Linked DNA regions of Homo sapiens. The protein of the gene in region 4 interacts with the protein of the main gene of each other region in a pairwise test. Each region holds a gene or a part of one and is shown on either strand. Other genes may lie near its edges.

Region 1 (7,029 bases), on a different chromosome or scaffold from region 4:
GTTATTGCGTTATTTCCCATTAAATGATGGTTCCTCTGACTATCTGATTGGCATTGACTATGTTTGTTGTAGAGATTGCATACATCTAGTTTAACTCTGGCTGTCAAATGAGAGCAGTTACTCTTATCAGGATGGGTGTCAGGTTTGATGTCCCCTCCTTTTCCTGCTTCAGGTTAATTTGTCATGTTCTGTTTTAAACTGAGACATATAGCTTGACCTCCTTTATTTAGGCCATTAACTGCTCTGGGGTAGTTTTCCTGAAGGTTAAAAAGCCTAGCTTCATGATGGAGGTTAACCAACATGACCATGATGGCCAGGTGTATAAATCTGGCCTCTTAAAAATCTGTATTTGAGGCTGGGTGCAGTGGCTCACACCTGTAATCCTAACACTTTGGGAGGCCAAAGCTGGCAGATCACTTGAGCCCAGGTATTTGAGACCAGCCTGGGCAACATGGCAAGACCCCTTCTCTATAAAAAATTTAAACATTAGCTGGGCATGGTGGCATGTGCTGTAGTCCCAGATACTTAGGAGGCTGGGGTGGGAGGATGGCCTGAACCTGGGAGGCAGAGATTGCAGTGAGTTGTGATCTTGCCACTGCACTCCAGTCTTAGCAACAGAGTAAACCCTATCTCAAAACTTAAAAATCTGTGTTTGGCCCCTAGCCGTCCTCAGCTCTTGAGTAAATCTCAGCATCCTAGGCTGTTACATTATGGCCCAAATATTCAATAGAGATGCTGTATATCCTTGTTCCTCTCAAAACCCCTCCTCATCACCATCAAAAAGCTGGTTCAGTTCTCTACCTTTAGATAAAGAATCATCCCAAGACTCAACATGAGCTGCCGTGACTTGTCCAAGATGACACCTCTTTACAATGTAGAGCAGTGGACAGAACACAGGTCACCCTCCGCCGAAGGCAACTATCTACTGTCTAACATTGCCTCCTAGGCCTGCCATATATAACCATCAAAAACAGTTTAGAATAAAGTGAATTGTTACAATTTTTATTTTTCATTTTTGTGTTTACATTTACTCTCAATGACATGTTTATTCCCACCTAATATCTTGAGGCTAACCACAAAATCTGCAGCATTTCCAGACAGAAGATACTTGTGACTTCCCTGTACTATCCACTACATACTTGACCTCTTTCTCTTTCTTCCTGTCTTCCCTTTCTCTATACCTTATTGTCTTTCTTTGGAACCTCTTGTAACAAATTTTGAGCCATTTCTCCCCTCACTACTCAAATATCACTTTTATGAAGGGGCGGGGGGGAAACTTAGGTGGCAAAAATATTTTACAGAAACAGTTTTAAACATGTTTTGAAGCATACTGGTCACGTGTTAGAAGGCCAAAAGCCAGGGAATTCATTCCCTTTCATTCATTGTGCTGTCTAGGTTAAGTTTTCACAGGACTTCTTGGTACACTGAGTTTGCCTCAGATTGTCTCCTGCCAGTTACAGGGAGTGGAGAGGACTTTGATATATTGGTAATTAGAAGCATTGCTGATATGGTCTTCGGTGGGAGAACCTGTGTCTAAGGTTCCTTCTCATCTGTATTCCAACACTTTCATTTAATCCTACTTCATAAGTGCCTCCAAAGCAAGGATTTTTTTTTTGGTTTAGCATGGTTTCTTTGATATAACAATAGACCGACCAAGATTTTCCTTATGCCATCTGTTTTTTTGTAATTATGATGCAATAGAGAACTGTTTGCTTGTTTATCATTTAAATCTTGCCTTCTTCCCAAAACGATTTCAAATAGCTTGAAGGAAAATGAATAAAATATATTGAGCACCTACCCTATGCCAGACTCTATACTGAAGGGTTTCTATAGGTTATTTCATTTACTCCTTAAAACAACCACATGAGATAAGTAGTATTAGCCACATTTTTGAGGATAAGACTGAGGCTTAGGGAAATTGTGTTACAAGGCTAATAAGCGAGGTCAGGGATTCGAGGTCAGGGATTCAAACCCAGCGTGCCAAGGCCACTAACCATTATGTGGAAAGCTTAGGTAAGCGCTTGTATATAGGACAATCAAGAATAAAAGAATATGTCCATTAGAAGGATTGTACTGGGCTAATCTTTCGTTTTAAAGAACAGCAGCAGCATTGGAAAAGAGCGGTTAACAGTTTTTATTAGCCAATTTCTATTCTAGAACACTGAGAGGAGCTGTTGACAGGCCCTGGTTAGCCCCAGCAAGTAGTTGTATTAAAATTACCAAACTATAGGCCTGCATTAAGGTATAAAATAAGAATGGGGACTGGAAGGGATATAAATATCTGCTAAATATAATAATTTCAGTTCTAATCACTATTTTCTTCTGAAGATTATTTGCCAGTACATAGGCAGATCACTGTCTCTCCTTTAGGTTGATGGTATATGACTACAGACTTTGTCATTTAGGGTCCAGAAAGATCACCCTAGCTAGTAGCGTTTTAAGGTAGAGAACTAGATATTGTTTCATTGCCTGTGGTTTTCTGTTCTTGTAAGAGAATTGAGCTTGGGTCTTCACTGCCACGTGACACCTTCAGATAAGGGGCAGAGACAGCTGGCCTGAGGATTGTACAGAGGTCTTACCTTGATAGCTCCTCTCCAATCCTATGCATCCTAGGAACACTCAAGACACTAGGTTGTATCTTTGCAGATACTGTTTTAGTGTCTTCTGGAACCAAGTCTCTTACTTAATCCTGGCCTGGTTTCATATTCTCTCTATTGTATTCTCTCTATAGTTTTTGTCTTACTCTGGAACTCTTCCAAGGACAGACATTGAAGAAAGGTATTAGAATAGCAAAGGCAACAAATTGCAAGGTATACTTATGGCATAGCACATCCCATTAATTATAGAATAAAAACACAACATCTGTTTTCTGCCTCTAATATTAAATCTTGACATTTGCACAACACATTTTAGTTCATAAAGCTCTCATATCTCAGATAATCACTGAGTTAGGAGACTGGTTATCTGCAGAGGGCTTTATCCTTTACAAGGGCTCTTGGGTACGTTACTTCACGAAACCCTCAGGGAAGCTCCAGTTTCTTGGGGATCTGGGGCCGGGGCATATGTCTTTGGATACCCAGTTTGGTGCTGTGCACAGCACTGCTGTACCTCCTATTCATTTCCCATCTCTTACCCCACAAAGACTCCTTCCTTCATTCCTTCTATTGCTGATCTGTTTTCCTTCATCTTCCTAGGCTGCCAAAGTAAATGCAAAACAAGCACCAGAAATCTCAGCTTGTGATTTCTGAAGGGCATTTTTAAATGGCAAGTTTGGTGTGGCACTGTTACATGTTCTTTTTTCTTTGGAGAGCAAAGCCCTTTGAGAGAGCAGGAACTCTTCTGTCAATGCATACGTTGTAGGATCCATACTGTGGAATCTCTTGTACCTAGTGCTGCGTGAAAACAATGAGGATTCCAAGTCTACTTCACTGGACGTCGGTTCTCAAACTTTTAAGATACTAGAAGTCCTTTTATTAAGCCAAAAGACCCTATGTATTAATTCTGTCTTCCAGGGGTAGGAGTTGGGGTGGGGTTTGGAAAGCTTTGTCTGGATAAATAATTAGTATTGTAGTTCCATTTATTTGATGTCTGATTTTGCGCTTATTAAAATTGATTTAAATCCTCAATGGAAAATGATTTTTTTTTTTTCAAATGCCAAGTGTTGTGTGACTTGCATTTGGATTATTCCCGGTGCAACCTGAAGATTCCTTGTGATGAGTTGTGGTTCCATCATCTTGGGAACCACTAAGAGAATTCTGTTTTACTCACAATCCAAACAATAAATGTTTTTTTCCCTATGTATGCCTTTATCCAGCACACAGTTTGCTAGACTTATGGATGAATATGGGTTAATATAACATGGTATCTATCCTTCTGGAAACAGACTTTTAAAACCTTACTAAGCATTCTCTGCATTCATCAAATGTGAAGTGAGTGCCTGGTGTGTGCCAGGCATCGAGCTGGGCACAGCATATCCCTGCCCTCAGAGCTTTACAGTCCAGTGAGTTCAACAGAAGATGAACAGTTTTGATGACACAAAAAATAGACACATGTGCATGCTGTGATAGGGGGAGATACAAGTTCCTGTGGAAGCATCATCTGGGAGGACCAGGGAAGGCATCTTGGAAAAACTGAGCTCTGAAAGATGGATAGAGTTAACCACATGAAGAGTGGAGAAGGGTACTTCAGACAAGGTGAACAGCATCAGGAAAGCCCAGGGAGGGTATAGAAAAGAAAGAACAGTAATTCTTGCAGTGGCTTTCAATGGGAGTGGCAGTCATGGAAGGAAGGAGAGGTAGCAGGGACCAGCTTTTGAAGGTCTTTGTGTATCACATTTTAAGAAGTTTAAATTTTAACCTAAGGTCACTGGGAAGCCATTGGCAGATTTTGTATGTTAGGAAGTTCACCACTCACCTACTTGGAGTATTGCAGGTGGAGCTAATGTGGATGGGCCTCCTGCCCATTATTAAATCCTGTTCCTGTCAGGAACAGGACAGCCCATGCTGTCTCTCCCTGTGTGTCTGTCTCTCCCTGTGTGTCTGTCTCTCTCTCTCTCTCTGTCTCTCTCTCTCAAAAGCTAAAGGAAAGCGCATAGGTTCCAGAAGGAAAAAGAAATAACCACTAGAAAAATAAGTATAAGCTGACTTTACCATGGCGCAGTGAGATTCCAAACCAAAATAAGGTTTCTAGGGATTGAGCTTTTAATACTGGTACTCCAACAGGGAGATAGGACTTGGGAAGCTGACGCTGTGTGAAAGTTACAGAATTAAGCAGCCTGCAAACCTGGACCTTTGAAAATCGTCCTACTGACCCAGGAAAAGTGCAAGGAAGTGGGTTCTCCAGAACCTTGGGTAGGCCAAACATTACTTGAAGGCATCGATCTAAATAATACACAAAAGCATTATTCAGGAACACCCTGAGAAATTAACATAAAAACTGATTTGGCCAGGCATGGTGGCTCAGCCTCTGGTAACAGTGCTTTGGGAGGCCAAGGTTGGAAAATCACTTGAGGCCAGGAGATCCAGGCTGTAGTGAGCTATGATTGTACTACTGCACTCCAGCCTGGGCAACAGAGGGAGAGTCTTAAAAAAGCAAACTGTCCAAGATCATTGAAACCATTAGCACTTAGGAAGAAACAAATGAAATTACATTCAAGGGGCTCACATTTAAATCCAGGGCTCTCAGGACTCCCAAAGTAAAAAGATGGACATAAAATAAAAAAATTACAAGCCACTTGAGAAAAAAATAAATCACCATGAGGTAGAGATAGCAGAGGAAAAATTACACATGAAGATCTAGGAATTAGGGAGCTATCCAAGATAGACTGTGAAAGTATGTTGCAAGTGACTGAGGGTAATGAAAAAAATGTCATAAGAGCATGAATTAGAAGCGTTTTGAGAAAGAATGAAGATAATGTGATCATTGACTGTAAACTCATTTGATGGGCAACAATAGATGAGACACAGCTATTAAGAGTGGATCGATAACCTTGAATGTGGATGTGAGGCAACTGTAGTATAGCACAAAAAGGTTGAGAAATGATGGAGCCCTTAAGCTGCTTGTGGACACTGGTCTGGAGGGGGACAGGACCAAGAAAACCAGTCATGGAGGTTGAACTAAGTCATCTCTCCAATGTATCCGTGCCTGTTACGTGCCAGTGCCGTTTAGGAGCAGAGGATATTGTAATTTTTTTTAAAGTTCCTATGAATACCTTCTAGTGGGTCATAATGGCTCAACCGGGAAATGGCAGTAGAGATGAAGAGATGGATGGATTCGAAAGACATTTTTTGGAAGTTGGAATTAACAGGATATGGTGAATAATCAAGAGATAGTAAAAGCATAATGGAGGAAACAATGGTTCTTCCTGTTACCATAGGAAGAAGCTTTGGAGTAGAGTTTTATTCATTTTAAATGCATTTATTGTGCACTTTATTATAGGTATTGGAGATTGATGGAAAATAGTCTCTGACCTCAAAGAGTTTCACAGGAAAGATGAGCGATGGCTATGTAATATGACCAATACTGGGATAGAGAGGTGCCCAGGTCACTACGGGAGGACTTAGGTGATTTCTAACTATGTCTGAGAGTAGGGGAAATGGGATCAAAGAAAACATCTCAGAAGACATGAAGCTTGAGCTTATGTCTTGAAAAATTTAAAGTTTAACCTAACCAAGGATAAAGAATCAGAAGAAACAGCATATTCAAAAGCTAAAGAACACGGGACTCTTGTGTGCTTTGCATGTACACACGTGTGTGCGTGTGTGTCTGAAAGGATTGGAGAGGAGGGCGAAGAGAATAACAAGATGAACGTCAACCTAATGTAGAATGTTTGAAGTTTGTATTTCACTTAACAAGACAGCGGGGAGTGATGGAAGGATCTTAGATAGGAAAGGGACATGAGCACGTTTGCCAAGAGAGCTCGTTCTGATCATAGTGGGTACGTGAAGGTGACAAATCTGGAGGCAGATAGCTCACATTTGGAGGCAGTTGCAGTCATCCAGATGAGAAGTGAGAGGGACCTAAGCTGTAAATTGTGGGAATAAAGACAAGACCCGTTAAAAAGAAAGAGAACACACCATGTAGCGTGGAAAGGAGAAGGGTGGAGAGTAGCCTGTGCAGAAGGAACAACCTTCAAAAAGACATGGAAGACTGAAAAGACACCCTGTTGTAGGGAGATCAGCAATGCATTTTTTATAACCAGGTGATACAGGGAAAAGGTAGGATCTGAAGCTTGAAAAATAGATTGGGGGCTGATTGTAAAGAGCTTCGTGTCATTCCCAGGATTTTGGAACTGATTTTACTAACATGAAAAAGGTTTTGTTTTAAAATACTGAGTAATATAGTTGGAACTATAATTTAGAAAGATAATAGCTGGTGCCATCACTCTTCTAAGCAAAGATAGTAATACATTTAATGCTCATAGGCTTTAGTAATACATTTAATCCTTACAGTAAGCCTATTAGATAAAAACCATTATTATCTCCCTTCTATAGACAGAGAAACTGGCATTAGGAGAATGAGAACTTGCCT
Region 2 (6,946 bases), on a different chromosome or scaffold from region 4:
CAAGGTAGATGCCAGAGATTTTGAGTGGTAGTTATCCAACTTTACTGATCATCATACGGAAGTCAGCCAAGGCAGATTCTGAACTCACCCTCAAATCCTTCATTTACCTTTGTTGTTTATTAAATTTTTAAAATTTTCTATTCGACTTCATTATCCATTCATGCTAGGAATCCAGTTATTAATTAAAGGGGTCAGTGGTTAAACTTACAGCACAGTCCATGCTCATAGGTTCACACATTTCAAATCAAAACGAAGTAGTCTAACAATAGAATATATAAATCATCTCAGTTACATTAATATTTACATTAAAAATATCCATACAAATAGACTCAGCCTGATACCAATGAAATACCAAAGATAAATAATCTAAAGGCAAATAATCTAAGGACAGAGCAAGACAGCAACCAATTCAACAAACTTAAAAAACACCTACTATATGGAAAAGACTGTGCTAGGGTTCTGCACTATCTCATGAATGGGGAAGAGGTGGGATGAGGTGCAGACAGTACTTGGAAAAAGTCTGATTATTTCAAGTGGTCTCTTTATTAAGGAAGGAGGTAAAAGGAACATAACCTGAGCGCAATAAAAATCTAGTTTCATATAAAACTAGTATTATACAAAATTCAGTTTCTAATGATCACTGTCCATCAGCAACTTACAATCAAATAAAAGACAGATCAAAGTATAAGAAAATTGTAGACGGTAATATTTTCCTAATGACCTAGTCTCCCATCTTGGTTTAAATATGAGAAATTCTAGTAGATAGTGGGGATAGAGCTAAATAAACGAAAACGTAAGGAAGTTAGAGAACGGGGACAAAGACTTAAAGATTTTTCAACGTAAGCACTATTTCTCCTCAACCTTGTTCAGTTTTTAATGGATCATCTTATTCAACAGGAGCCACAACCTGTTTTGAGGAACAACCAACAACTGTGGGCCTACTGGAAGTTCAAAAGACGATTGTTCCTGTTTCTGAGGTTGACATCTAAATGCAAGAAAATTACAATACGATTTCATACTGCACAATCATCAAGGTCTACAACTGGAACAGAAACATTTTACATACAAAAGACCTGAAGATGATAGCGTACTTGCATAATGAAGTGGAAATCATTTGACTTTCCATGGCAAACCTGAAGACAATGGGCATGCATTTTGAGGAGTGAAAAGGACCATCTAGTGCTCCATGGCAAACAGGTTACCAAGCCATGCTCTAGAGCTATACTGTCCAAACGGTAGCCGCTAGACACGTGGCTACCTAAATTTAATCAAAATTAAATAGCACTACAAAAAAAGTAGTTTATTGGCACCAATTACACCAGTTAAGTGAAAAACCAAGATTTATTATAATAGAGATATTACAGTAAAAAAGATGTTAAGTATAGAATCTAGGTAGGGGTAGGCATATAGGTGTTCACTTTATAGTTCTCAAGAGTTTTTAATGTTTTATCCTTTTCACGTTAGAAAAAAATTGTTTAAATAGCACCATAAATTCAGTTATACAAGGCACACCTCAAGTAATCAGTAGGCCTCATTTGGCCAGTTGCTACCCTATTGGACTGCACATAGAACGTTTCCATTATTGCAAAAAAGTTATTGGACTGCCCGACTCTAGAGCCTACCTGCTCAGGAGTCCTGGCAAGCCTTCAGAAACTAATTATTCCACCCAAAATTCAGTGCTAACTTGTTCCTAGGGCAAGTGGATTATAACTACTGGAACAGTGCAACTTTTTAAGAGTGGGGCTTCAGATGGAAGAATAAAAGGAAACAAGGAACATGGTTACTAAAAGTAATGAAAGAGGAAATCTATCAGAAAGAGGTTGAAAGGAACTGGGAAACTGAAGTGAGACTCGTGGTCAATAGGAGTTAAAAATATTTATGTACATTCATACATACATATATGTTTGTCTAAATGTTTAACAATTTATAAAGCTGAAAACTCATTTAGTTCTCCCCCCTCCCCTACACACCAAATACATTGTGAAATAAGGAATAAAGACATAATCAAAGATATGCCTAACATGGGGTAGACTGTACTCTTGTAACACTTTAGGACCTCACTGCTTATAACTGAAAATATTTAAATGTGAATAATCCCTGAGGGGTTTGTCATAACTGTAAAAAAAAACTAGACCTTGTATAAGCCCCCCAAAATTAAATCCAATCATGTATGAAGGAAATAAGGGACAATCTACACTTGCCTTTCATGGATGGGAATCTGGCTACATAGTTCCACCTAAAGTATCTTCTGTCACAGGATATATCTACCAGAACAATTTCTTATTATCTCTAAAGTGAATTAGAGACATAGCCTCCTGGAAAAAACAAAAAACTACTCTGCAACCAGGATTTGGTATGTTTTATTAGAGCAAATTTTTAACAAAAGGTGGCTTTCATTTACAGAATTTAATGTGTGTGGGGACTGTCCAACCCATATGGACTCAAGTAAGGATAACCATTAAGCTTGCTAATGTATTTTCTTATTTTCAGTTTACATACAAATTTTTTTTGTTTGCTTCACATTCATAAAAACCCCAATACTGTAAATGACAAATAACCCCTCCCATCCCTTAATTAAATATACAAACAGCCTGAAAACATACAATTTAAATTGGTTTAATCTTGAAGTGTAATCCAATAAGACTGAAAACTAAACATTTCAAGTCTTGTACCAAATAGTAAAATACTCGAAGGCCTTCAGGATCCCTAAAATTTAAAAAGGTAAAAGTTACTTTTTCTTCCTAGGATAAAACAATTCTTTAAATGCCTAAAACAAAACAAATCAAAATCTCATAACAATTAAGTTAACAAAATTTAGGAGAAAGGAAGGATTTTGCTGACAACTAAAATGAACATACAATTAATATCTTTTCTATACGAAAAAATAGTTTCTTCATCAGTATTCATTTTAGTATTTAAAGAGTTCATATCCTTATGATTGTAATAACCACATCATAAAAATGTCTAATAAAGCAGAAAAAAATAATACTGTAATGCTACCATTTCATAGAATAACTATAAACATTTTGATGTTTCTCTATTTTTTAATAACTAAAATTATTCCTTGTGCCCTTTTTTACATTACTTTCCCCACAGCATTAAAAAAAAAAAATTCCCTAGTAATTTTTAATTAATTTAATAATTCTCTCCTTGTTAGACACTGGGGTTAATTTCCTATTATAAATAATACTTCAATGAGCATCTTCATGCATAATAAAGCTTTTCCAATATTTAGGAATAGTTCCATAGAAGAGATGCTCAGAAATGAAATTACTAGGCCAAAGGTGAATGAAAAATGTCAACAGTTTTTGATGCATATTACCAAACTGCTTTCCAAAAACCATTACCAATTTATAATCCCAGTAGGGTATCAATGCCACACCCTTACCAAATGTAGGAAAAGAAATTTGATAGTTTAAAAGCATTTGGATGGTCTTTGTGAACACAGATTTTGCGTCCAATAGTTATCATGCATTCATTCCTTTCTCCTTTCCACTAACAAATATTTATTGAAAGCATCTATTATGTGCAGGGCACTATGCTAACTCTGTGGATACAGCAAGGTTCTCAAGGAGCTTACATTCAAACCAGTAAAGCAGACAAATAGGTTATTACAATTCAGGGTGACAGAAAAAAGTAAGAGCACTATGGGGACACTTTGAGGGGAATGGGCACAAATAAAAATAAGTGGCTAGGATCAGACCAAGAAAATGGGATGTGCTACAAAACCCTGGGGCAGAGGAGAGACAGATCTTGGGAAGACATCGATAGCTAAAGCATACTTAGGCCATAATGGATTTTTTCCATCTTTTTCCCAAGTATTGAGCCCAAGAAGGACAGTGAGATGATATAGGCCTAATGAGGCTGACATAATCCAATAAGGATTTCTTTCCTTTGGATTTGCTGATACTGTATCCACATTTTTATACAAAGTAGCTAATACAACTTGGGCATTATTATATACAGCTGTTGGATTAAAAGTTTTTGGACAATCAATGAAATACTCTGCTAACTTCTACTGAGAGACAAGATAATAAGCCTTTAATGACATAAAAATCAGGATTACATCTGCATAATAAACTGATAGGATGCCACTGAAATTATCTTGGCTAGCAAACTGACTATAGTTCTAAAATGAGCCTCTGTAATAATGAAAACTTCGCCAAAATGCTTTAACATACTTACTTTGACTGATTTACATCAATAAGAGAACCTATTTTTGATGTGGTAAAAGATATGTGCTCATCTCCAATTACAATTTCAAGCTCCTAAAAAATATAGCAGAAAAATGTAGTTAATATAAAAATCTATCCCAGAGGTATCTGTATTCTTGCTACAAGCAGATCCCAATTTTAGTTGCAAGTTTTCTAGCAGCCAACAGAGGGAGTGGGGGGCGAGGGGGAAAGAAACATGGTTTCTTAGATATAAACTATATCCTTAAAATAAAGACTGCTCACGCGCACTACCCCCAAGTTTAGGACCAACAAAGAATTGCTTTCCAGAGACATAAAGAAGACACTATGAAACAAAATGACAAAGAAATATTTCTTACAATGTCAGTAAAAACTAAAGACATCACTTTGAAGCACATGTTGTAAAAATGATTGGAGTATAAGACCATTTTTAATATGATAAATACACATTTTTTCTTTCTGGAAGATTCTACAAATAAAATGTGTAATATTAATAACCACCACCACTTTAGCACCTACTGTATGTCAGGCCCTAGTGGTAGGGACTTTGTACTCTCTGTAATCTTGAAAATAACCTTACTAACCTATTTTACAAATGTGTAATCCAAAACTCATAGAGCAGAAGAAAATACTTGTTGATATTTATAACCACTAATAATGATGGTACTTATATTTGATCCCAAGATGGTAAGACTTCAAAACTAATACTCCACAAAATAACTAAAATTAAGAACTAGTAAAAAAAAAAAAAAAAAACCAACCTAATGTAGATGTTCCTAGTGTGCTGTAATTACTGTATAGATTTTTCCCTATATTGTTTATCTGCAGGCCTAAAACCAATAATTAAAAAGCTATATCTGTAATGAATCTTCAAGTTAACAGACACTATTGAAGACAATCCTAGCTATTTATTTAATCAGAGGCCTAATTATGCAGTTTATGACACACACAGAATGGAGAATTAGCTAAGATGCTCTAACAGCCATAAAACCTTTGACTTGATACAAAAGGCAATTTCTGAAGCATGCCTACTCCTCCCCACTAACCAAAACCCATGAACACATCCTTAAGTGAATAGATAAAATACTAGGCTCTCCCTGAGTCTAAATGATATAAAAGGTTAGCTGCTGTGGTTTGCTTTTTAGTACATATGTGTATCTGCATAAAACAAACTGAGGCCTAAATTTACTTTTTAAAAGTGATACGATGCTTAAAATAAATACTGTTAACTATTACCTTTGCTTTTCTAAATAATGCTTCTTTAAGCAGAAGACTTAAGTTACTCCTACAGAGTGTCAGCATGTGTTAGATTTCTCCACATTTTCTTCTATTCAAAGAAGGTGATACAAAGTACAATCCTCAGGGATATACAAAAGTGAAATTAAATGTTTCTTCCTTCCAGGGGTTGTTGAAGGAATTTCTCCAAGAGTTGAAAAGACCCAATTCAGAAACCAAACTTTCTTTTTACAGAGTGAAATTAGGCCTTCAGAGTTCTTCAGAAGCCTGAGAAACATCATTTATTCTGAAGGAATATGAGAGGGAAATGCAATCATCAGTTTTAACAAAGAAACCACCAATCAAGTTTCTCTCTGGGGTATAGGGATGCAAGTAAGAATTTTAGAAGTTATGATTTGGCAAAAATAAATTTTACATAGTCATATTCTTAATAAAAGTGATTAACACACAACAGAAATTATTCATAACACTGCATTGTGAAAACATCCTAACGTTGGCTGGGGTGACTACAGAGAAAGATGTCTAAATTTAGAGCTATGCACTGACTCCTTCACTACTAGGAGGTAGCACAGAAAAACAGAACTAAGAGATAAAATTAAAGAGAATTTACCAGGTGCCTATTAAATAGAAAGCCAAAGAATCAACTTAGACTCATTCCAAATAAATAACGGGAAACAAAATAGTATTATCAATTTTTAATATTTATACACTTAAAGAATCACTAAATACAAACCTGTCGGCCAACCCTATCAGGGGGAGGCCACAAAGCATCATCTTCTTTTGTAATTTCACTGTCATCAATAATTCTCTTCAGTTCTTCCATTACACTCTTGTGCACATAAGCCTAAAAATTAATCATAATAAAATGAGATAATGCCCACCTATGTCACCCCTCAACTCAGAAAGAAATGAGTTACAAACCCTGAATATCCAAATAGAGGAATATAGAAAAATTTAATTGATTCCAAAAGTAGAGGAGACAGAATCACTTATCCTTGTTACACTGCTTTTCTTCATCTCTTGCCCTTTCCTTTCACATACATTTTTTCCCTCTTCTCATCATTACCTGTCTTTCAAACACTGTATTCTGCCTTTGCAACACTGAGATCCAAATACCCACAAGTGGTTAACTTGTGTCATCACAAGATCTATAAGGTGAACTGTAATAAATGCAAGTATACTGAGGCAGGAGAATCGCTTGAGCCTGGGAGGCAGAGGTTGCAGTGAGCTGAGATCAAGCCACTGCACTCCAGCTTGGGTAACAGAGCGAGACTCTGTCCCTAAATCAATAAATCAATAAATGCAAGTGTAGTTCACGTCAAGGTTAGTTCTCTGAACTTTCTCATTCCTATGGATGCAAACACTGTATCTAATTTAAATGGAAACTCTTTCAATCTATAAATTGCCTTCTTCTTTACAATATAGCCTTAGATGTACTTTTTTAAATTCAACACAGACTTGAAGAAAATGGGCTAAATGCAAAAAAAAAAAAAAAAAAAAAAAAGACATTCACATAG
Region 3 (7,029 bases), on a different chromosome or scaffold from region 4:
TGAGTGGCTTCTTTTATTAAGCACAGTGATTTCAGGCTTGTCCACGCTGTAGTATGTATCAGTACTTCATTCCATTTTATGGCTGAATAATATTCCATAGTATACATACACCACATTTTGTTCATTCATCAGTTGATGGATATTTGAATTGTTTTCACTTTTGGGCTATTGTACGTAATGCTTTTATGAACATTTATGCAGAGGTTTTTGTTTGGATATATATTTTCTATTCTTCTGCTGATAAATAGGAGTGGAATTGCTGGGTCATGTAGTAACTTGGTGGAACTAAGCATCTTTTAAGTTCTCTCAGTTATTCACATGAGCCCCATTTACTTAGCACATCAAATGGTCATTGTATTAATGCCTAGAAGATAAGAGGCAATCTCTACCATTGCAGGCTTTGGCAGGTGTGGTGGCCTGTAATCCCAGAATTTTGGAAGGCTGAGGCAGGTGGATCGCTTGAGGCCAGGAGTCCGAGACCAGCCTGGCCAACGTGGTGAAACCCCCCATCTCTACTAAAAATACAAATTAGCTGGGCTTGGTGGTGTGTGCCTGTAGTCCCAGCTACTCAGGAGGCTGATGCCCAAGAATCTCTTGAACCTGGGAGACGGAGGTTGCAGTGAACTGAGATTGCGTCACTCCACTCCAGCCTGGGCAACAGAGCAAGAGATTGTCTCCAAAAAAAAAAAAAAAAAAAAATGCAGGCTCTGAAATCTGACTGCCTAGGTTAAAATCCCAGCTCTGCTTTCTAGCTATGTGATCTTATGGGATTTAATTAACCTCTCAATGCATCAGTCTCCCCATCTCTAAAATAGGGACAGAGTATCTGCTCCATGGGGCTGTTATGAGGATTAAATGAGATAATACATAATAATTGGTTAGGAGGTACACAATAATATTAGCTATTATAAGAAGGATAGTTACGATGATAGTAGCTATCATTTTTGTTTTCTCTCCTTGCTTCAGTTTTTGAAACTGAAATTGAAAAGCTTTGATCTGGTTGGGTGTGGTGGCTCACACCTGTAATCCCAGCACTTTGGGAGGCTGAGACAGGTGGATCATTTGAGGTCAGGAGTTCGAGACCAGCCTGGCCAACATGGTGAATCTCCGTCTCTACTAAAAACACACAAAAAAATTATCTGGGCTTGGTGGCACAAACCTATGGGGGAAAAATAAAAAAGCTTTGGTCAGTGTGTGTGTGTGTGTGTGTGTGTGTGTGTGTGTGTGTGTGTGTGTGTGTGTCTAGAGCTCGGGCACAGGAGAAAAAAAAAATCACCTTTTTTTTTTTTTTTTTGAGATGGGGTCTCCCTCTGTTGCCCAGGCTGGAGTGCAGTGGCACGATCTCAGCTCACTGCAGCCTCTACCTCCCAGGATTAAACGAGTCTCCTGCCTCAGCCTCCTGAGTAGCTGGGATTACAGGCACATGCCACCATGCCCAGCTAATTTTTGTATTTTTAGTAGAGAAGGGGGTTTCGCCATGTTGGCCAGGCTGGTCTTGAACTCTTGACCTCAAGTGATCTCTTGACCTCAAGCCCACCTCAGCCTCCCAAAGTTCTGAGATTATAGGTGTGAGCCACCGTGCCCAGCCCTGGCTAATTTTTGTATTTTTTGTAGAGACAGGTCTTGCCATGTTGCCCAGGCTGGTCATGAACTCCTGGGCTCAAGCAGTCTGCCCACTTCATCCTCCAAAAGTGTTGGGATTACAGGCATGAGCCTCTGCGTCTGGCCAAAATCGAAATTACCTGAGTCTTCCAGGCCCTTCGTTGTTAGAAAGAGAGGCCAAGTTAAGAACTTGAAGCCGATCCTAAAATAATAATGAATCTGATAGGAGACTTAGTGTAAAAGTCACAGCCTGTCTGGGCAGGTACATTACAACTTGTTCTTGGCTTGGAGATGTTTTACTGGTAGAGTGAGTGACTAGAAGATACTAAATTATCATCGAAACAGCATAGATCACCTGTTCTGGAAGACTAATGTGGAGTGAGTGTGTGAACCTACATCAGTTGCCAACACGTTTGGCATTTAAATTTGATGGGTCTTTTTCCCATATTTGCACTAGCTCTTTTATCAGTGCTAAACAAACACCTGTTGATTTTTCCTACCAAGATGTTTGCACTGTTTCAACTAGGCAAAACAGCTATGTCAATACATTCTATGGTGTTGGTTTTATTAAAGAGAGTGACGGAGATTAATCAGAACTTTTGTTCCATTTTGTCTGCGTGGCAGCATATTCCATGGCATTCTTTTCTCTGCATATGTGGTGTGATTTCTTCGAGATGCAGTGTGTTAACTAACCTCTGGTTTTTAGGTCTAGCTTAAGTGGAGGCCTAGGTTTTGTAGAGATCTAATCTTCACTTACTAAATATTGTTAAGTGCCTGCTGGTATGTGTCATGCTCTGCCAGGTGGCAAGGGGGCTACAGAAAAAGATATGGCACCACTATGGCTTTCTAGGAGCTAAAAAATCTGCTTGGCATCATGGCTTCCCCTGGAGAAGATGCTGTGTATGATTGACTTTCTGGTTTTTCCACTAAACATATGTTATATTTGTAATCAGACAAACTTAAAAGTGGAATTGGGTGAAAACACATTGTTGAATGCAAAGAGCAAGATGTAGAAAGATATGTGCAATGTGCAGTCTTTTATGTGAAGTTTAAAAACATAAAAAATACTGTGTGTTGTTTATGGATCTGTGAATATATGTAGAGGAATAAAAACAGATGGGAGGAGTTCCCTCCAATTTCAGAATAATTGTTATCTCTTGGGAAGTGAAGAAACAGGACTAGGGACTGCAATTAGGGCATCAGTAGTCTAACACTTTGTTTTTGTTTTGTTTTGTTTTGTTTTTTTGACATGGAGTCTTACTCTGTTGCCAGGCTGGAGTGCAGTGGCCCGATCTCCGCTCACTGCAACTTCCGCCTCCCGGGTTCAAGCGATTCTCCTGCCTTGGCCTCCCGAGTAGCTGGGACTACAGATGCGTGCCACCACACCCAGCTAATTTTCTTGTATTTTCAGTAGAGATGGGGTTTCACCATTTTGGCCAGGATAGTCTTGATCTCCTGACCTCATGACCCACCCACCTTGGCCTCCCAAAGTGCTGGGATTACAGGCGTGAGCCACTATGACCGGCCTAACACTTTTTTTCTTAAATGAAATGTGACAAATGTTAACATTTGTAAATCAGAGTGATGGGTTTGTGGATGTTTATTATATCATTTTCTGTACTTTTCTTTGTGTTTGAAAATGTCAATTAAATGCTTTTTCACTTGTGTTAGAGCAAATGTTTTGTATTTTTTTTTTTTAACTTGTGTTGGAGAGATCAGCCAGTTAGCCATGGAATTAAGTAAAATTTAAAGTAACATGATTTAGAGTCAAAATAAGTCATATTTACAGTGTGATGTTATTTATATAAAGTTTAAAAAACATGCAAAATCATACATTATTTAGGGATACATACATAGAAAATAAAAATATAAAAATGAGTGTGAAAAATGCCAGATCCAATAGAGTGGCTTGCTAGGAAGGGAGGGAGGGGTATGCCAGGGTGTTTTGTTTTGTTTGGTTTTGTTTTGTTTTTGACACGGGGTTTCACTCTTGTTGCCCTGGCTGGAGTGCAATGGCACGATCTCGGCTCACCGCAACCTCTGCCTCCCAGACTCAAGCAATTCTTGTGCCTCAGCGTCCTGAGTAGCTGGGATTACAGATGTGTGCCACCAAGCCCAGCTAATTTTTATTTTTAGTAGAGATGGGGTTTTGCTGTGTTGGCCAGGCCAGTCTCGAACTGCTGGACTCAAGTGATCTGCCTGCCTCGGCCTCTCAAAGTGCAGGGATTACAGTGCCCAGCCCTGATTGTGTCTTATATTATGATCTAAATCTAGTTTATTTTTAAAAAGTAATATAAGCCCTAATTTATGTATGTTAGGGAACTAGAGAAGACATGAGTTAGTAGATGCTGGGGGTAGGGGTATGGAAAGTTTCATGAGGGGTGTAGAATTTGAAGAGAATGTTGCAGGATGGATACAATTTTGAAAAGGGATGTAGAAAATAGAAAAGCATTCCAAGTAGGGAAAAGAGCCTTATTTAATAATGGGTTTAATAAGTTTGGAAGGTGGAGTGGAGATCAGTCTTTCTTAGAGCTGAGTTTGGGTTTGGAAGGAGTAGGTATGGTACAGACAGTGAAAGGTGAATTATAAATGTCAGGAAATTGAGCACCTTAATCATTGGGCTCTTCTGGTCTATCTCCATTTAGTCTCTGTGATCATCTCGGTTTCTCTTTTCTAAATTCTTGCCTGTCTTTTTTAAGCTGCAATAAGCTGATTTATTATACAAAGTGTTCCAGTTTTAGATACATCATGGTTCAGTTCAAGAATATGTTAACAAATTCAATTTGGGCCCTGATACCTTTGCTGATGAAGTCCATCATTTATCTTAGCCTTCCTGGCTATGCCAGCACCTTGGGCTGACAGCTTTAAAAAATAGTCTACTGTGATTTTAAGATTCCTTTCCTAGATGGTAATTGATGGCCTCTGGCCCTTCAGCCTGCACAAATTAGGTTTGCTTTTCTTCTGCATGGGTTACTGGCAGATGGTAATACTTCTTTAAGGTAATACTCTCTTATTTTTCTACCCAGTCACCTTACCTAACCGGCCTGTTGAGATCTTCCTGCAGTTTATCCTCTGATTTTATATTTTATTGTGAGGAGGGCTTGTGGGCTTGAAGAATTCAGGTGTACTCTTAGATTATTTGCAGCTGCTAATGTGCATATCAGTAGCCCTTTGGGTTTTTTTTTTTTTCCCGTGGTCAGTGGGGGTGTCTAACACCCCCTTCCTCTCTCAGCAGAACTTTCCCTTTACTCTTTGATTCCTCTTTTTTTCTCTCTGCCTAGGAAACCCTTTAAACACATCAATTAGTATTGTTTTCAAAGTTTGTATTTCTGTAGTAATATATGTAATAGTTTGCTTACACATTACTTATTAATCTTCCAGAGAGGTTTAGGGAGTAAAGATTCTTATAGCTAAAGAAGTAGGGACTGTATTCATAAATTAAAGATTATATGTAAGATTTCCTCTGAAATCTTAATAGGAATCAATGTGAAAGTGATTGATTTGGCTATATTTTTATTTAAGAGCATCCTTTAGGATCACCTCTGTTATGTGAAACAAGTATTTGGTAAGCTTGTTTCAATTTCTAAATGTTGAGTATGGATTAAATTATAAAAATGGGAGGGAGGAAGAAAATCAACATTTCTTGGGCACTGAGTGTTTGCTGGGTAGTGTTCTAACATTTGCAAATCTACGTCACTTCCTGCTTAACATTAAATTAGCATTACCACCCACCAGGAATTGTGCTAAAGGGCTTTCAACATATCGTCCCACTTAAACCTTCTAACCTTCTCAAGATCGCTTATTTCTTATAAAGGTGATACTTGTACATGATACTAAATCAGAAAGGGTTTGCAGTGAAAACTAAGTCTCTTTGGTGTCCCATCATCTTCCAGTCATCTGGTTCCTATTCCAAACTGCTGCTACCAGTGTCTTTTGTATTCTTTCAGATACTCTGATATTCTTTCAGATACATAGACCTAATCATACATAAAATGCATGTATCTATTTTAAAGATTTTTATAAAAATGGTGTCATACATGTAGTTCTGCATCTTTTTTCAATTAATGTCTGAGTTTATTTCATGTCAGTGAATATAGAACTGCCTCATTCTTTTTTTTTTTTTGAGACGGAGTCTTGCTCTGTCCCCCAAGCTGGAGTGCAGTGGTACAATCTCGGCCCACTGCAACCTCCGCCTCCCCAGCTCAAGCCATTCTCCCGCCTCAGCCTCCTGAGTAGTTGGGATTACAGGTGCCTGCCACCATGCCCGGCTAATTTTTGTATTTTTTAGTAGAGATGGGGTTTCACCATGTTGGCCAGGCTGGTCTTGAACTCCTGAGCTTAGGTGATCTGCCTGCTTTGGCCTCCCCAAGTGCTGGGATTACAGGCGTGAGCCACCGCACCTGGCCAGAACTGCCTCATTCTTTTTAAAAGATATACTGTAATTTATTTAACTACTTTCCTGTTGGTAATTATCCTTTCTATTTTAATAGGTAAGTTAGCTCCTTTATATTTATTGGAATAACTGATATATTTAGTTATTTAGTTTAAGTTCAATTTTTAATATTTTCTTCGTCTTTTTTTTTTTTTTTTTTTTTTTTGAGATAAGGACTTACTCTGTTGCCCAGGCTATAGTGCAGTGACACGATGATAGGTCACTGTAGTCTCAAACTCCTGGGTTCAAGTAATCCTCTCACCTCAGCCTCCCAAGTAGCTAGAAGTACAAGCATGCACCACCACAGTTGGCTAATTTTTAAATTTTTTGTAGGTACAAGGTCTTGCTACGTTGCTCAGGCTGGTCAAACTTCTAGCCTCAAGCAGTTCTCACACCTCAGCATCCCAAAGTCCTGGGATTACAGATGTGAGCTACCATGCTTGCCCTTTTAAAAATATTTTCTTCTTAAAAAAGTCTTTCACTATGTGGACTGTGCTTGCTTTTGAGGGGAGGACATACATATATATATATATATACACACACACATATATAATATATATATACACACATATATAATATATATACACACATATATAATATATATATACACACATATATAATATATATATACACATATAATATATATACACACATATATAATATATATATACACATATATATAATATATATACACTATATATAATATATATACACTATATATATAATATATATATACACTATATATATAATATATATATACACATATATATATACACACACACATATATATATTCTGATAATTTGGAAGATTTATCTTTTTATTTTAGTGATTGTGTTTATAAGTGTAACTTTATACCATATTTCTTCAGACAGTACCTGTTGGCTCCCTACCATGAGTAATGATGAAATTAGTAAGTATATTTCCTCACCCCTCTCTTCCCACCTGCTTCTAGTTGATTATATTATTTTTCTTGGTTTTATTTTCTGTCGTAAAA
Region 4 (7,029 bases):
CAGCCAGTATCTGGTATTCCCCACTGTAGGTTCCGTAGGGGCAAGGTCTGTCTCTTTGACTTCTCTATCTCTAGTCCCTAATCCAGTGCCTGCTGTGTAGTAGATGTTAGGGATGACTTTATATAATGGGCATTTGGTTAGGTTTTGGAAGTTCAGAGATGAATAAAACAGTTCTTTACCTTAGAGGAGCAGGGTATGAGGAAAAACCTGTGGGAATAAAATTAGAGTAGACTAAATGCATAAATACATGCCGATTAGTTCATTTGGGTTTTCTGCACCCTCCCCTCCCCAGCTTCCATGACTTGTGAGATGGGGCATGAAAAGGGCAAAGGGGCAAAAGAATGCCTAAGCTGTTGCAGGATGAAGTTGAGGCTCCCCAAGAGTCCTTTTCAACAAAAGAATTACTCAAAATCATGCATATTTTACTATATTTGCATTAGCTTTATTTGGCAATGATAGAATTTTTACCAAATGAAATAAATTCTGATATTTGACTGTCCTTTTGAAGTGATGAGTTTTTCCAGTTCTATTACCTCAGTGTTGACAGGGCTCACCAGAGAAATAAGGGAGTTGGCTTGAAATGTTGCAGCTTGCATAATAGAGGGTGATGGAGGGGTTGGGTGAAGTATTCAGGCAGGTTTCCACCGGTTTAAGTGTGTCATGCCAAAGTTCCACCTATTGGAATAAGTTTGAGTTTCTTTGCTGACCATCTCTAACATTGACATGTATTTTTTTTTTGTCATAGAAAGGGGATCTGGTGATATATATTGTAGGTGGAATTGCAGATTACATCTCGTATAGCTGGATCATTGTAGAACATGGAGACTAGAAAAATACAAACAAAAAAAGATGTGTCTTGTTCCCGTAGATCTTTCATGGCATACCATAACCTCAACAGTTGTCACAATTTTGTTACTTCCTAACATGAGTATTTCAAATTTAAACCATGTAAGAATTATATAAAATTGCACTGCCGTAGATTTTATGGTTAATTTCAGAATTTTTAAAAATATATAAAATTATATTTTGTTTTAAGCTTTCATTGGGAAAGTATCTAAATAACCAGATCTATGATTACTCTAAACAGAAGCCCTCTACTAACGTAAATGTAGAGGGGTGCCATCTCATTTTGCAGTTCACAACGTTTTAAATCTGCTCTTGTAGCTTCCCTACATTTAATGGAGTTGAAATGATTAGTCTTTATTTACACCACATTTGCAGTTAGTTTCCCAGGAACATCAGATACCCATATATGGTATAAAGTAAAATTGCATAGTCAATAGCCTATTGATGCTCAGGTGTTATTGACTTTTAAGTTCAGGCACAGTGAGGGCAGGTTGATGGTTATTTAATTGTGTCAGGTAGCTCCCAGCAGAGGGGGAGTGATGGTAAGTTCTATCTGAAAACAACAGGACCCTCTGTTTCTAACACTGACCATGCGAAATATAACATCCTAGATAGTAAATAAAATTCAGATTCCTTTTAAAATTTACATTTGCACAAGCAAATTTTAAACTATTTTATGAGTACTTTTATATATATGAAGATTTATTGTTGAAAACAGTGTGTCTAGCCCAGTGATAGTACATACTGAGCATTTAAATATAATTCTTTTTTTAATTAAATTTATTTTTTAAATTATACTTTAAGTTCTAGGGTACATGAGCACAACATGCAGGTTTGTTACATATGTATACATGTCCCATGTTGGTGTGCTGCACCCATTAACTCGTCATTTACATTAGGTATGTCTCCTAATGCTATCCCTTCCCCCTCCCCCGACCCCACGACAGGCACTGGTATGTGATGGTCCCCACCCTGTGTCCAAGTGTTCTCATTGTTCAATTCCCACCTGTGAGTGAGAACATGTGGTGTGTGGTTTTCTGTCCTTGTGAAAGTTTGCTCAGAATGATGGTTTCCAGCTTCATCCATGTCTCTACAAAGGACATGAACTCATCCTTTTTTTATGGCTGCATAGTATTCCATGGTGTATATGTGCCACATTTTCTTAATCCAGTCTATCATTGATGGACATTTGGGTTGGTTCCAAGTCTTTGCTATTGTGAATAGTGCCACAATAAACATACGTGTGCATGTCTCTTTATGGCAGCATGATTTATAGTCCTTTGGGTATATACCCAGTCATGGGATGGCTGGGCCAAATGGTATTTCTAGTTCTAGATCCTTGAGGAATCGCCACACTGTCTTCCACAGTGTTTGAACTAGTTTACAGTCCCACCAACAATGTAAAAGTGTTCCTATTTCTCCACATCCTCTCCAGCACCTGTTGTTTCCTGACTTTTTAATGATCGCCAATCTAACTGGTGTGAAATGGTATCTCATTGTGGTTTTGATTTGCATTTCTCTGATGGCCAGTGATGATGAGCATTTTTTCATGTGTCTGTTGGCTGCATAAATGTCTTCTTTTGAGAAGTGTCTGTTCATATCCTTTGCACACTTGTTGATGGGGTTGTTTGATTTTTTCTTGTAAATTTGTTTAAGTTCTTTGTAGATTGTGGATATTAGCCCTTTGTCAGATGGGTAGATTGCAAAAATTTTCTCCCATTCTGTAGGTTGCCTGTTCACTCTTTATGGTAGTTTCTTTTGCTGTGCAGAAGCTCTTTAGTTTAATTAGATCCCATTTGTCAGTTTTGGCTTTTGTTGCCATTGCTTTTGGTGTTTTAGACATGAAGTCCTTGCCCATGCCTATGTCCTGAATGGTATTGCCTAGGTTTTCTTCCAGGGTTTTTATGGTTTTAGGTCTAACATGTAAGTCTTTAATCCATCTTGAATTAATTTTGGTATAAAGTGTAAGGAAGGAATCCAGTTTCAGCTTTCTCAATATGGCTAGCCAGTTTTCCCAGCACCGTTTATTAAATAGGGAATCCTTTCCCCATTTCTTGTTTTTGTCAAAATTCTACTTCTTGCAATCACTTTTATTTTTGCATTATTATCTTCAACTCATATATATTTGTAGTAGTAGCTGGATGCTTGTTTGTGTACTTTACACTCTAAATGTTTGAATATATTTAAATAATTTATATAAGTAGCACTTATTTTTGCTTCATTTCACATTTGGTTGCTTAAAAATTAAAATCTTTAGGTTTGATTTTAACACATTACACTAATGGCTAATAATTAGTAAGTCTAGGTGGAGACTAAGCTTTAGTGACAGGTTAACCAAGTTTTAACCCCAAAAGAACACCCAGAAGAAAATTCTTAGGGAATAGTAAGCAAAACCAGTATGTCGATGAAAGGAATAATTTAACCATAACTACGTAGCTATTATTCTTCAAGTTGTTACTATTCTACAGGGAGTATTTTCTTATTTGGTTCTTCAATTGCAAAGCTATTAATTTCAGTCTGCATTGCAAGCCACCAAGCAGTGTGAAATAAATACTGGAAGATGATACTGTGAAGAATCTGAACTCAGAATGATTTTTTACTTTCCAACACACTCTGGGGACATTTGGCAATGTCTAGAAAACATTTTTGGTTGTCACATTTGTGTGTGGGGACATTACTCCTAGCATCTAGTGGATTGAGGCCATTATAGCATGTCACTGAATGTCCCACAATGTACAAGACAACTTCTCAACAACAGAAAATTATCCAGTTCAAAATGTCAGTACTCCTGATGTTGAGAAATTCTGTAATATCTTTTCTTCCTTCACTCCCTCCTTCCTTCTGTTCCTCCTTTTTTATTTTTTTATTTTTTTGCTTTAGAAATGGAGGTGGTAGTTTTAAGTGGCAAATGCCTGACTTGGACAAAGGATTGTGTTGTACTGCTTTTAGTTTGTTGGATAGCTGAGCTAATTTGGTTCATTTACTGAATGGGAAATAATTCTTGGAGCTAATAATAGTAGCCTTGAATTTTTTTGGTTGCTAGTGTGTCTAGTGGTTTTGTATTTGTTTTTGGCTATGAATATTTTTCTTACTAAAATTAATTTAATCTGGACTTTATATAATCCTGGATTGTAACAGGTTTCCTAGTGTGAATTCCCTTTATTGTTGTATATGTTAAATTAGCTATTTCACAGTTTCATGGTTTATATCTGTCAAAATCCTTTTCACATTAATTTTCATTTTTGATTGTTACAAACAGCCCATAAAATGTGTAGGGCATGCATTATCCTCACTATTAGACCAATGAAGAAACAGACTTAGGTTAAATGACTTTCCATATGTGTTAATAAGTTAGTGATGAAAGCAAATCTAGAACTTTATACCTAGGAATCTTTTTTTTTTTTTGAGACAGAGTCTCGCTCTGTCGCTCAGGCTGGAGCGCAGTGGCGCGATCTTGGCTCACTGCAAGCTCCGCCTCCCGGGTTCACGCCATTCTCTTGCCTCAGCCTCCCTAGTAGCTAGGACTGCAGGCACCCGCCACCAAGCCCGGCTAATTTTTTGTATTTTTTTAGTAGAGGCGGGTTTTCACCGTGTTAGCCAGGATGGTCTCGATCTCCTGACCTCGTGATCCGCCCGCCTTCACCTCCCGAAGTGCTAGGATTACAGGCGTAAGCCACTGCGCTCGGCCGTACCTAGGAATCTTTTAAAGTTACCAGTTATTGTTATCCCATTTAATCTTCTTGACAATACTGTGAAATAGAGTTATTACTCTCATTTTATAGAAAAAGAAGTTGGTTTAGAGATATTAAATAACCTATTCAGTGCCACCCAACTCATAATGTAGTTTGGCTGTTTCCACTGAGCTATTCTGTGTCTTCAGATATTCTCCAATAAATAAATCTGACAATTTCTGGATAAATTCACAGAATCTTTGCCTAACTTAATTAGGTTTCTTGAAACTCATGTTGCCACTTGAATCATTGGTAATTCAGTGTTTGTAAGCCTATTCTAATTTGACTTAAGTAGAAACTTACCTGAGTTTTGGTAAACCATACTTGCTGGGTAGGGGAGAACCGTGCTTGCAGAAGACAGTCCTTTAAACAGGCAGAGACGTTTTTATGTAGGGTTTTGAGGAAGCACAGAGTTTGAGATTGGCTGATTTTGAAAAGTGCAAAAATTTAAGGATTAGCCAGCTTTAAACTTAGAGTTTAGAGACTGACCGGCTTTGAGGAGCAAAGGTACTGAAGCGGGGCAGTTGCTGATTGGCTTACTTTGTTGGCAAAGTGCTTAAGTGGAAAGGTTGAGTAGACTTTAAGGATGGATTGACTGGGGTAGATTTAAAACTGGTTTTGTGGTTACTTGTTTCCAGCTTAGGACTAGAGCCAAAGAACAATCTTTTCCTTTCTTGAAGTTGAAGAATACGTACTTTTTATGTCAAACATGTTGATGTTAGCTATGGCGCTAATATAACATACTTTTGATTTTGCTTTTCTTCTGAAACTTAAAAGAAAAATGGATGTACAAATATCACTTGTTTTCTGTCTATCAATTTCAGGACAATATATTTGGAACCCAGGCTGCCTCAAGGATTATTTTTATATGTAGTTCAAGAGGTAATATATTATTTGTGGAAATATATTAATGCTTTAAAAATTATGGTGAAGGCTGTGCTGTCTATGGTGAAGGTTATGTCTATTTTTTTTCTCTTTTGGGAGTGTGTTATATTATGTGCCTGCCACAATTAGTCTTGATAGATGCCGAATTATAGATCTAGAAGTCTGTTGTTTTTGCTGTTATTAGAGATACATCTAGAAGTGATTACTTTTTGAATGTTACTTGGAAAGTATTCTGATCAACATTATGAAAGATTAGTGATTATATTACATATATTTTATAGAACAAGGCAAGCAAAATATTTTAGTATTTGCAAATCATGTTACTATAATTATTAGATCATAGTACCATTTATATAAAGTATTAGGTTGGTGCAAAAGTAATTGCGGTTTTGGACCGTGAATTTTAAATCATTATAAGTCGGCTCAGACACGTCTTTATTAATCAGAGCAGGAAGCATTATAATCAACACATTTTTGCCAATGAGAAATAAGTTTGTTCATTCCTGTAGCTTAAAAATTCATGCTTTGGGATTTGGAAAGCATTTTCTGCTTTCCAAAAACCTGCTGGTTTTGGAAGCATTTTCCTTTCAAATAGTTGTCGAGATGCTTGAAGAAGTGGTGGTTGACAAGAGGTCAGGTGAATATGGCGGATGAGGCAAACTTCATAGCTCAATGCATTCAGCTTTCGAAGCGTTTGTTGTGTGTCGTGCGGTTGGGCATTGTCATGAAGAAGAATTGGGCCCTTTCTGTTGACCAACGCTGGCTGCAGGTGTTGCAGTTTTCAGTGCATCTCATTGATTTGCTGAGTGTACTTCTCAGATGTAATGGTTTCACCAGGATTCAGAAAGCTGTAGTGGGCCAGGTGTGGTGGCTCACGCCTGTAATCCCAGCACTTTGGGAGGCCGAGGTGGGTGGATCACCTGAGGTCAGGAGTTCGAGACCAGCCTGGCCAACATTGCGAAACCCTGTCTCTACTAAAAATACAAAATTGGCCAGGCATGGTGGTGTGCACCTGTAGTTCCAGCTACTTGAGAGGCTGAGGCAGGAGAATTGCTTGAACCTCGGAGGCAGAGGTTGCAGTGAGTTGAGATTGTACCACTGCATTCCAGCCTGGGTGACAGAGTGAGACTCCGTCTCAAAAAAAAGAAAAAAAAAAGGAAGAAAGCTGTAGTGGATCAGAGCGGCAGCAGGCCACCAAACAGTGACTATGACCTTTTTTTGGTGCAAGTTTGGTTTTGGGAAGTGCTTTGGAGCTTCTGGGTCCAGCCACTGAGCTGGTCGTTGCCAGTTGTCGTATAAAATCCACTTTTTGTCACACGTCACAATCCGATTGAGAAATGGTTCATTATTGTTGTGTAGTATAAGATGGCACTTCAAAATGACAATTTTAAAAAATTTTCCTTCAGGTCCTGAGGCACCCATTTATTGAGCTTTTTCAACTTTCCAATTTGCTTCAAATGCCAAACGACCGTAGAATGGTCAATGTTGAGTTCTTTGGCAGCTTCTCACTTAGCTGTAAGACGATCAACTTCAATGATTGCTCTCAATTGGTCATTTGTCAACTTCT

Evidence for each region.
Region 1: the proteins of ZNF438 (region 4) and ZNF202 interact in binary tests that used the Homo sapiens proteins (3 or more experiments, as listed by UniProt).
Region 2: the proteins of ZNF438 (region 4) and MAGOHB interact in binary tests that used the Homo sapiens proteins (3 or more experiments, as listed by UniProt).
Region 3: the proteins of ZNF438 (region 4) and TBC1D22B interact in binary tests that used the Homo sapiens proteins (3 or more experiments, as listed by UniProt).

Annotation. Positions count from the first base shown.
Region 1 is NC_000011.10:123,731,635-123,738,663, reverse strand, and holds part of ZNF202 (zinc finger protein 202), read left to right. Parts: intron 1-6,992; exon of another isoform or gene 6,993-7,029. UniProt on the Homo sapiens protein: Transcriptional repressor that binds to elements found predominantly in genes that participate in lipid metabolism.
Region 2 is NC_000012.12:10,603,669-10,610,614, forward strand, and holds the end of MAGOHB (protein mago nashi homolog 2), read right to left. Parts: intron 6,274-6,946; coding exon 6,163-6,273; intron 5,716-6,162; exon of another isoform or gene 5,430-5,715; intron 4,269-5,429; coding exon 4,186-4,268; intron 2,707-4,185; coding exon 2,607-2,706; 3' UTR 525-2,606; downstream 1-524. UniProt on the Homo sapiens protein: Required for pre-mRNA splicing as component of the spliceosome. Plays a redundant role with MAGOH in the exon junction complex and in the nonsense-mediated decay (NMD) pathway.
Region 3 is NC_000006.12:37,260,755-37,267,783, forward strand, and holds part of TBC1D22B (TBC1 domain family member 22B), read left to right. Parts: intron 1-7,029. UniProt on the Homo sapiens protein: May act as a GTPase-activating protein for Rab family protein(s).
Region 4 is NC_000010.11:31,021,850-31,028,878, reverse strand, and holds part of ZNF438 (zinc finger protein 438), read left to right. Parts: intron 1-4,475; exon of another isoform or gene 4,476-5,459; intron 5,460-7,029. UniProt on the Homo sapiens protein: Isoform 1 acts as a transcriptional repressor.